Regions from separate parts of the Homo sapiens genome. Here region 2 is linked to region 1. Evidence: fine-mapped expression QTL. A gene starts in region 1. The other region holds a variant in brackets. All regions are shown on one strand. Distances are from middle to middle.

Region 1 (5,313 bases):
CTAGACTGGAGTCTCCATGAGGGCAGGGACAATCCTTTCGACTGTTTATCACTGGCATAATGCCTGGCACATGGCAACCATGGAACAAGTTATTGGATAGGCCGTAGTAGAAAGAGCTAGGGTAAGAGGAGGGAGAGAAAAGACACAGAAGCAGAAGAGTGGAAAACCTGGGATTGTGCAGGCTCCTTGTTAAGGGGACACCATCCCATTAGAGCACCACAACACTCCTCAGAGGCAGACAAGGGGGATTGAGGTCAAATGGTTCCTTCAGGCACCCACATGGCATGGGCTGTCCAGCTCACAGCCTGTCTCTCCTGGCTACCCAACAGGCATGATGAGCTCTGAGTTGGCTATCAGTGGTACCCCCCTCCCTAGCCATAACAATTGATCCAAGACATAGGTACATGACTCAGGCTGGACAATTAGAGTCCTTTCCAAGAATTTTTAAACAAGAGCTAAGAAAAGTAGCTACTTCCTCTGCAGCTATGAGAGCATGAGCCTGGGTTTCCTATCATCTGGTCAAGCTTCCCGGAGGTGGCCAGCCTGGGGTAATGAGCCTGGCACCCAGAGAAAAGCAGGGAAAGAGCCACAGAAACAAAGCACTACGGGTCGTCAAATCCCTGGTTCCCGTATGCCTCAGGTCAGCTCCACCCTGCCCTTCCTAGTTTATGAGCCAATAAATTCCTTTTGTGTTTAAGAGAGTTAGTGTTGAGCTTCTCTCTTGAAATCTATCAACTACCTTTCTCTCCAAAATGCACCCTGAATCTGACCACTTCTCATCATCTCCACTGCCACCAGCCTGGTCCAAACTACTAATATGTTTTGCCTGGATGAATATAACAGCCTCCCAATGGTCTCCCTGTTCCTCTCTTGCTCTCCTACAATCCATTTTCCACCCAGCAGGCCAAGTGATCTTAGACAAATGTCAATTAGATTATGTCACTTTCCTGCCTAAACCCTCCAGTGGCTTCTCATCACTTTTAGGGTAAAATACAAACTCCTTACCCTGTTTTACAAGGCCCACCATGAGGAGTGGATACTCCTGTCTGTCCTCTGACTTTATTCCATGCCACTTCCCCCTCATCACTATGATTCAGCTATATTGGCCACCTTTTTGTTCCAGACACATTAAGCTCATTATTTCTTCAGTGTCTTTGTACCTGCTTGCTTTCTTTTCTTTTCTTTTTTTTTCTGAGATGAAGTCTTGCTCTGTTGCCCAGGCTGGAGTGCAGTGGTGCGATCTCAGCTCACTGCAACCTCCGCCTCCCGGGTTCAAGCAGTTCTCCTGTCTCAGCCTCCTGAGTAGCTGGGACTACAGGCGCCTGCCACCACACCTGGCTAATTTTTTTATTTTTAGTAGAGACGGAGTTTCACCTTGTTGGTCAGGCTGGTCTCGAACTCCTGACCTCAGGTGATACACCTGCCTTGGCCTCCCAAAGTGCTGGGATTACAGGCATGAGCCACCACGCCTGGCCTTTGTACCTGCTTTTTCAGGTCTTTGCATGGTTAACCCCTCATCATTCAGTTTTTAGTGTAGTAATATAGTAATCATGTCTCCCCCACCTCATCCCTTTCTATCTTATTATGTTGTTTAAGATATTCACAGAAATGATCACTGCTATAATTATCTTTTAATTATGCTTTTGCTTACTTTTTTGTTGGCTATCTCCCCTGGAGTTTGAGCTCCAATGGAGCAGGGCCCTCACCTGTCTTATTTACCATGTATCTACACAGTAGATGCTCAAGTAACATTTATTCAATGAATAAATGAATGCATTACAAAATGAGGAGGAGCTGGAGTTCCAGGCAGCCCCTAGATTCCCTGTTGGGTCTTCTTTCCTCTGCCCCATGCACACACAGTACACACTGTTGACTAATGTTTAACTCATAGAGGAGTTTGGGCTTGACATGTGACCTCACTCAGCCTCTGTTTCATTTGTGAAGTAAGAAATAAGAGTGGGCGGCTGGGCGTGGTGGCTCATGCCTGTAATCCCAGCACTTTGGGAGTCTGAGGTGGGCAGATCACGAGGTCAGGAGATCAAGACTATCCTGGCTAACACGGTGAAACACCATCTCTACTAAAAATAGAAAAAATTAGCCGGGCATGATGGCACATACTTGTAGTCCCAGCTACTCAGGAGGCTGAGGCAGGAGAATTGCTTGAACCGGGGAGGTGGAGGTTGCAGTGAGCCAAGATTGTGCCACTGCTCTCCAGCCTGGGTGACACAGCGAGACTCCATCTCAAAAAAAAAAAAAAAAAAAAAAAAGGAGTGGGCTTATTTCACATAAGCCCACTCCTTGCTAAACCAACAATGATTGCCTAAGATGCACGGAGCCAGTTGGTGGAAAAGTCCATAGACTATCAGAGTTGAATGGTGCTGGTCAGGTGGGAGGAGCACCTCATTCCTGCTTCCCCATCAAGTTACTTGCCTTGGCCTGCTTCCTACTCTCTGGGTCACTGGTGCTCACACAGCCTTTCCCAACCCCCACCTCCAAAGGTCATATTTTACAGCTCCTTGTGAGGAATTCACATCATGCCATGACCTTCACTATGAGAAAGCACAGGCTGTAAAAGGCCAGCCTGGCTCCCTGCTCCGTGGTTAAATATTGATGATATTGGGCAATAGAGACCTGGAGTGGGCACACTACATATCCCCCTGCAGTGATGGAACCCACAGACCGCAGGTCCTCTGCAGTCCATTCTCCTGCCTGTCCAGAGGATCCGGATGTTTTCTCTTTACTTGAGGCCAACACATAACAATGAAAGCACTGGGCTACTGGTGCTTTCGGATTGTGAAAGTCAGGTGGAGCCTGTTTGCACTCTGAGTGCACTCATTCAAGAGGTCAGTCACCCTGGAGTGATACAGAAGGCTCCAGGCCTGGGCGTGTGCTAAGGCCAGAGCTACCAGATGGGTCCAGCTGCCGCAGGCTCTCCAGGCACTGTCCCCTAAGTGACAGCTGTTACTGCCTGGGAGAGCTCAAGTGCAAAGACTATCCTGTTCTCCCATAAAGAGGAGGAAAAGGAAGATACAGAAATCGGTGCTGCTCCCAACAGCAGATCAAGGCAGTCGTCAGGAACTCAGGATCCGGGGTGAGTGTCCTCATCTTGCCTTGGGGATGGGTGGCCCAGGTCTTTGGCAGAAGTCACAGTCCAATGGCACGATGGTTAAGCCCTGTTTAAAATGCAGAGATCTCCCAGAGGGGCTTAAGGAGACAAGACAACTAAATGCAGTATGACATCCTAAATGGGATCCTGGAACAAGAAAAGAACATTAAAGGCAAAACTAACAAAATGCAAATAAGGCATAAAGTTTAATTTAATCATGCAAATGACAATATGATGCTCACTTTAGAAGCAAACTGGATACGTGCTTTGATAGAAATATGTCTTTGGCCGGGCGCAGTGGCTCACGCCTGTAATTCCAGCACTTTTGGAGGCCGAGGCAGGCCGATCACCTGAGGTCAGGAGTTCGAGACCACCCCGGCTAACGTGGTGAAACCCCATCTCTACTAAAAATACAAAATTGGCCGGGTGCGGTGGCTCATGCCTGTAATCCCAGCACTTTGGGAGGCCGAGGCAGATGGATCACCTCAGGTCAGGAGTTCCGAGACCAGCCTGGCCAATGTGGTGAAATGCTGTCTCTACTAATAATACAAAAATTAGCTGGATGTGGTGGCGGGCACCTATAATCCCAGCTACTCAGGAAGCTGAGGCAGGAGGATCACTTGAACTCGGGAGGCGGAGGTTGCAGTGAGCTGAGATGGTGCCACTACACTCCAGCCTGGGCAACAAGAGTGAAACTCTGTCTCTAAATAAATAAATACAAAATTAGCTGGGCATGGTGGTGGATGCCTATAATCACAGCTACTTGGGAGGCTGAGGCAGGAGAATCACTTGAACCTGGGAGGTGGAGGTTGCAGTGAGCTGAGATCATGCCATTGCACTCCAGCCTGGGCAAAAAGAGTGAAACTCTGTCTCAAAAAAAAGAAAGAAATATGTCGCTTGTTTCTGTGGCATCTAACATAGCTGAGGAGGGCTGACTCTCGGTTCTGGATTTGTATCCAATTTGTCATTTTGGTTTTTTGTTGGTTGGTATGTGTTTACTGTAACAATATTAAACATATTTTAAACATATTTTGGCCAGGCGCGGTGGCTCATGCCTGTAATCCCAGCATTTTGGGAGGACAAGGTGGGCAGGTCGCTTGAACTCAGAAGTTCAAGGCTGGCCTGGGCAAGATGATGAAACCCCATCGCTACAAAAAATACAAAAATTAGCCGGGCGTGGTGGCACATGCCTGTTGTACCAGCTGCTCAGGAGGCTGAGGTGAGAGGATCGCCTGTGCCCGGGAGATGGAGGTTGCAGTGAGCCAAGATGGTGCCATTGCACTCCAGCCTGGGTGACAGAGCCAGACTCTGTCTCAAAAAACAAAAAACAAAAAAACACCACTCCACTGTGGACAATAGCTTACCTGCGTCTTTGTACACTGATCTGATTAGTTCCATTAATTAAATATCAAAAATTGGAATTGTTGTCTCAAAAGGTATAAGTACAATAATACCTACATTTAAAAATGCATACAAAGGCTGGGTGCAGTGGCTCACACCTGTAATCCCAGCACTTTGGGAGGCTGAGGTAGGCGGATCACCAACCTGGCAAACATGGTGAAATCCCATCTCTACTAAAAATACAAAAATTAGCCAGGTGTGGTGGCACATGCCTGTAGTCCCAGCTACTCAGGAGGCTGAGGCAAGAGAATTTCTTGAACCTGGGAGGCGGTGGTTGCAGTGAGCCGAGATCACACCATTGCACTCCAGCCTGGGCAGCAAAAACAAAACTCCATCTCAAAAAAAAAAAAACATACATACAAATAGACAAAATATACATAGAAATATATACACACATTAAAAATGGAATTACATGTATTGTTCTCATGAAAGCAGTGTATACGCATAAGAAACCACACAATACAGGAGTGGTCAACATGAATATCCCATGTGTCTAAATCTCATCCCACACCCTAGAAGAAGACTGTGTTTGGTTTCTCAACTTCAATACTTTTCTTTGTGAGTTCAGGGGTTTGCATATGGCACAGGGGCCTGTGGCTGATGTTACTAATCAATCCAGGCACTCTTACATCTGAGACTGGATGGAATGTCACAATCCTTCTTGGACAGTGCTCTGGACAGTCAGTTGGAGCTAGAACACAAGATCACATCTGTTGGCCATTCTTGTAACTTTGTCTTTCCATGATTTTAGATGGGTAGGTAGGCAGATAGATAGATAGACAGATAGATCGATAGATGATAGATAG
Region 2 (5,330 bases), 29 kb after region 1:
AGCAGCCCTGGCCCCCTGGGAGTCAGCCCTTCTCCAGCCCTGCCCCCAGCAGAAGGCAACTGTTTCCCTGCCCTGAGACAAGGCTAGTGCAGGTGAGGAGTGGCAGCTAGGGTCAGTGGGCAGGGTTCGATTGAGCCTCACATCCCCATTCATAACCAAGGAAAAGCCCAAATCATTTCTAAGCCTTTGTTTCCTCGTCTGTGAAATGGGAATAGTCAGACACTCTTTCCCTACCACTAAGGCCACCAGCAAGGACACAGTCAAGACCCAGCACTGAGAGCCCACTGGTCCCCAAGATTGGGACTGTCATGCCTGCTGCCTGGACATCCCAGACCATTCAGCCAATATCTGGCCTTGGGGAAAGAAAGAAACTGGCAGAGGGCCTGGGATAGTATTCATGGGGACTTCTGCCCACCCATCCCCCCATCTCCTCCTCCTCTTCCTGTCTGGTCCCTGGGGCAGAGTCAGAGATATTTCTGGCTGCCTCCTCCAGGCCTCTGGCTTCCCAGGCTCACACAAGTGGTCCCCACATCCCATCACTGCTTTGATGGAGTGAACTGGATGGGAGTTCCCTAGCAGGGGAGGCACATTTGTGTTGGCTCTGCAGATTCATACGTGAGGATCTATGCATATGTATCCTAAGGGGGAGAGAAGTTCCCCTGCCTCTTCCCACCTTCTACTTGGTCATTGTGAGCCACTCATTCTCCCTAAGAAGGCCTGCAGGTAAGGATGGGGAGCTAAACATCTGAATGGCAGATACCATTTTACACGTCTGGGCCTCAGTTTCCTCACCTTAGAATAGGTGGCAAGAGGAGATAATTATTAAGCTCCATTCCATCCCAAGCTCCACTTTTGGACCCATAGTTTTAGCTGGTCACCTAGAAAAGTTCTGTGTAGTGGGAAAAGTGCCATGGAGTGGGCAGCAGGAGGCCTGAGGCTGTCTGCTTCAAGCTACAAGACCCTGAGCACTTCCCTCCACTGTGAGAGGATTGAACCATATGAGCCTGAGGTGCCTTTCAGCTATGCCCTCCTGACACAAGGTGACTGCCCAGCATTTGTAGCACAGAGAGGCATCGGAGCACAGTGGTATGGCCCAGCACTTTGGGAGGCCGAGGTGAGAGGATCACTTGAGGTCAAGAGTTCAAGACCAGCCTGGCCAACAAGGTGAAACCCCGTCTCTACTGAAAATACAAAAATTAACCAGGTGTGGGTTACTCTGTCACTCTGGGTGACAGAGTGAGACTCCGTCTCAAAAAAAGAAACAAACAAACAAAAAAACCCCAAACCAACGAACCAAACAAACAAACAAAAACCGACAACAAAAAACACAGTGGTATGGGCATGCCCTCTAGCAGTCCCCAACCTTTTTGGCACCAGGGATTGGTTTTGTAAAAGACAGTTTTTCCACAGACAGCGGAGGGGAGATGGTTTCGGAATTATTCAAGCGTATTACATTTATTGTGCATTTTATTTCTATTATTATTATAACATATAATGAAATACTTACACAACTTGCCATAATGTAGAATCCATGGGTGTCCTGAGCTTGTTCTCCTGCAACTAAACAGTCCCATCTGGAGGTGATGGGAGACAGTGACAGATCATCAGGCATTAGATTGTCATAAGGAGCAGGCAACCTAGATACCTCCCACATGCAGTTCACAATAGGGTTCGCCCTCCAATGAGAATCAAATGCTGCTGCCACTGATCTGACAGAAGGCAGCACTCAGGCAGTAATGAGGATGGGGAGCGGCTGTAAATATAGATGAAGCTTTGCTTGCTCACTGCTCACCTCTGGCTGCGCGGCCTGGTTCCTAAGGTCCATGGCCCCAGGGTTGGGGACCCCTGCTTTAGAATCAGGCTGGCTGCATTCCAGGCCTAGGTCTGCCACTCTCTGGCTATGTGACTAAACCTCTTGGTGCTTCAGTCTCTTCATATATGAAATAAGGCCATTAATAATTTCTAATTCATAGTGTTGCTATAAGCAATAAATGGATAATATCCATGGGGGGAGAAATAATAGTATCTACTCCTGGGATTGTTGTAAGGACTTAGTATAAAGTGCTTACAACAGTGCCTGACACATAATGCAATTAAAGTGTTAGCTATTATTATTTCAGGAAGCCCTTCTTCCCATCCACAAGCATATGATCCCCTAGGCAGCCCCAATTCCTTTTCCCAGGATCTGGAGCCTCGCAGCAAGTGTGGAATTCCCATCCCCATCCCAAGTCAGGGGCTTTATGGGATGCTCATCTGCAAAGCAGGGTTGCTACCTTTCCCATTTTTCAGGAAGAAAATTGAGACTCAAAAAGAGATTGGACTGGCTCAGAGTCAGAGTCAGAAGCCCAAGCCAAATTAAAACCCTGGTCCTGTACCCCAGCCTGGCCCAATGTACTTGCTCCATTTCTGCCTTGTTCTCCAACCTGCCTGTCCCACTCCTCTGAGCTGAAGGGGTGAGGTGGGTATTCATTCTGCCCCAGCTTCTTCCTAGCTGAATGACCCTGGACAAGTTACCTAAAGTCTTTCAGCCTCAACCGGGATATTTCGGATACTGTCCCATGACTGTGAAATAGGTGTTATTATTGGCCCCATTTTATTTTTTAATTAATTTTTTTTTTTTGAGACAGATCCTCACTCTGTTGCCTAGGCTGGAGTGCAATGGCACGAGCTCGGCTCACTGCAACTTCAGCCTCCCGAGTTCAAGCTGTTCTCGTGCCTCAGCCTCATAAAGTAGCTGGTATTACAGGCACGTGCCACCACGCCCGGCTAATTTTTTTGTATTTTTAATAGAGACGGGGTTTCCCCATGTCGGCCAGGCTGGTCTCAAACTCCTGACCTCAGGTGATCAACCATTCTCGGCCCCCAAAAGAGCTGGGATTACAGGAATGAGCCACCGTTCCTGGCCTACTGGTCCCATTTGGAACATGAGGAACGGTTAGGACATTCGCACGAGGGCACACAGCTGGAAAGATGCAGGTGAAATGGGTATCTCCCTAGCAGCCCTCAGTGCGCCCGCACGCTGCAGGTGCACGGTATATGGTCACTATTATTGAGAGGTGACAGCATGCTGGCAGTCCTCAGAGCCCTCGCTTGCTCTCGGCACCTCCTCTGCCTGGGCTCCCACTTTGGCGGCACTTGTGGAGCCCTTCAGCCCACCACTGCACTGTGGGAGCCCCTTTCTGGGCTGGCCAAGGCTGGAGCCCACTCCCTCAGCTTGCAGGGAGGTGTGGAGGGAGAGGCGCGAGCGGGAACCGGGGCTGCGTGTGGCGCTTGCGGGCCAGCTGGAGTTCCAGGTGGGCGTGGGCTTGGCGGGCCCCGCACTCGGAGCAGTCAGCCAGCCCTGCTGGCCCCGGGCAATGAGGGACTTTGCACCCGGGCCAGTGGCTGCGGAGGGTGTACTGGGTCCCCCAGCAATGCCAGCCCACCGGCGCTGTGCTTGATTTCTC[A/G]CCGGGCCTTAGCTGCCTTCCCGCAGGGCAGGGCTCAGGACCTGCAGCCCGCCATGCCTGAGCCTCCCATCCACTCCATGGGCTCCTGTGCGGCCCGAGCCTCCCCGACGAGCACTACCCCCTGCTCCACGGTGCCCAGTCCCATCAACCACCCAAGGGCTGAGGAATGCGAGCGCATGGTGCAGGACTGGCAGGCAACTCCACCTGCAGCCCTGGTGCAGGATCCACTAGGTGAAGCCAGCTGGGCTCCTGAGTCTGGTGGGGACGTGGAGAGTCTTTATGTCTAGCTCAGGGATTGTGAATACACCAATCGGCACTCTGTATCTAGCTCAAGGTTTGTAAACACACTAATCAGCACCCTGTGTCTAGCTCAGGGTTTGTGAGTGCACCAATTGACACTCTGTATCTAGCTGCTCTGGTGGGGCCCTGGAGAACCTTTATGTCTAGCTCAGGGATTGTAAATACACCAATTGGCACTCTGTATCTAGCTCAAGGTTTGTAAACACACCAATCAGCACCCTGTGTCTAGCTCAGGGTTTGTGAGTGCACCAATCAACACTCTGTATCTAGCTGCTCTGGTGGGGCCTTGGAAAACCTTTATGTCTAGCTCAGGGATTGTAAATACACCAATCGGCACTCTGTATCTAGCTCAAGGTTTGTAAACACACCAATCAGCACCCTGAGTTTAGTTCAAGGTTTGTGAGTGCACCAGTCGACACTCTGTATCTAGCTGCTCTGGTGGGGCCTTGGAGAACCTGTATGTGGAAACTCTGTATCTAACTAATCTGATGGGGACGTGGAGAACTTTTGTATCTAGCTCAGGGATTGTAAACCCACCAATCAGCGCCCTGTCAAAACAGGCCACTTGGCTCTACCAATCAGCAGGATGTGAGTGGGGCCAGATAAGAGAATAAACGCAGGCTACCCGAGCCAGCAGTGGCAACCCGCTCATATCCCCTTCCACACTGTGGACGCTTTATTCTTTTCCTCTTTGCAATAAATCTTGCTGCTGCTCACTCTTTTGGGTCCACACTGCTTTTATGAGCTGTAACACTCACCGTGAAAGTCTGCAGCTTCACTCCTGAGGCCAGCGAGACCACAAGCCCACTGGGAGGAACGAACAACTCCAGACACGCTGCCTTAAGAGCTGTAACACTCACAGCGAAGGTCTGCAGCTTCACTCCTGAGCCAGCGAGACCATGAACCCACCAGAAGGAAGAAACTCCAAACACATCTGAACATCAGAAAGGACAGACTCCAGACACGCTACCTTAAGAGCTGTAACACTCACCTCGAGGGTCCGCGGCTTCATTCTTGAAGTCAGACCAAGAACCCACCAATTCTGGACCCATTATTACCATTTCTTCTAAGGATATGAGTGATCACACAGGTCTCCAGATGCCCTCCGGGCCTGCAGCCATACAGCCTGCGGGCCACCACATCACATGAGCCATACTATCTTTAGCCAGGGAGAGATATTTATAGCCCCCAGGGAAGTTTTTTGCTCCAGGGGAGCCCCAGAGTTGGTGGCTGGCTAACCCAAGGCCCCAGCGGCAGCCTCCGCCCGGCCAGCTCGCCATGGCACGGGGTCCACAGACCCTGGTGCAGGTGTGGGTGGGCGGCCAGCTCTTCCAAGCCGACCGCGCCCTGCTGGTGGAGCACTGTGGCTTCTTCCGAGGCCTCTTCCGCTCCGGCATGCGGGAGACCCGCGCAGCAGAGGTGCGCCTGGGCGTTCTGAGCGCGGGAGGTTTCCGCGCCACGCTGCAGGTGCTGCGCGGCGACCGGCCGGCGCTGGCGGCGGAGGACGAGCTGCTGCAGGCCGTGGAGTGCGCCGCCTTCCTCCAGGCGCCGGCGCTGGCTCGCTTTCTGGAGCACAACCTCACG

Direction of the effects. Alleles are on the strand shown, and positions count from the first base shown. SD is a standard deviation of normalised expression in the study named.
As copies of A replace G in region 2, the expression in hypothalamus of the gene that starts at base 2,896 in region 1 goes up (small effect, 0.30 SD a copy in GTEx).

The links. PIP is the estimated chance that this variant, and not a neighbour inherited with it, causes the effect.
Region 2: its variant is the best candidate, but not a certain one, in a credible set for the expression of SLC51B in hypothalamus (GTEx, PIP 0.70).

Annotation. Positions count from the first base shown.
Region 1 is chr15:65,042,492-65,047,804 of GRCh38, forward strand. SLC51B (SLC51 subunit beta) reads left to right here and starts at 2,896. Exons shown (of 4, transcript NM_178859.4): 1 at 2,896-3,091. It also overlaps a transcript of RASL12 not described here.
Region 2 is chr15:65,071,792-65,077,121 of GRCh38, forward strand. KBTBD13 (kelch repeat and BTB domain containing 13) reads left to right here and starts at 4,955. Exons shown (of 1, transcript NM_001101362.3): 1 at 4,955-5,330. The coding sequence starts at 5,025. It also overlaps a transcript of RASL12 not described here. RefSeq lists an enhancer at 1-365. The variant A/G (reference allele first, on the strand shown) is at 3,447.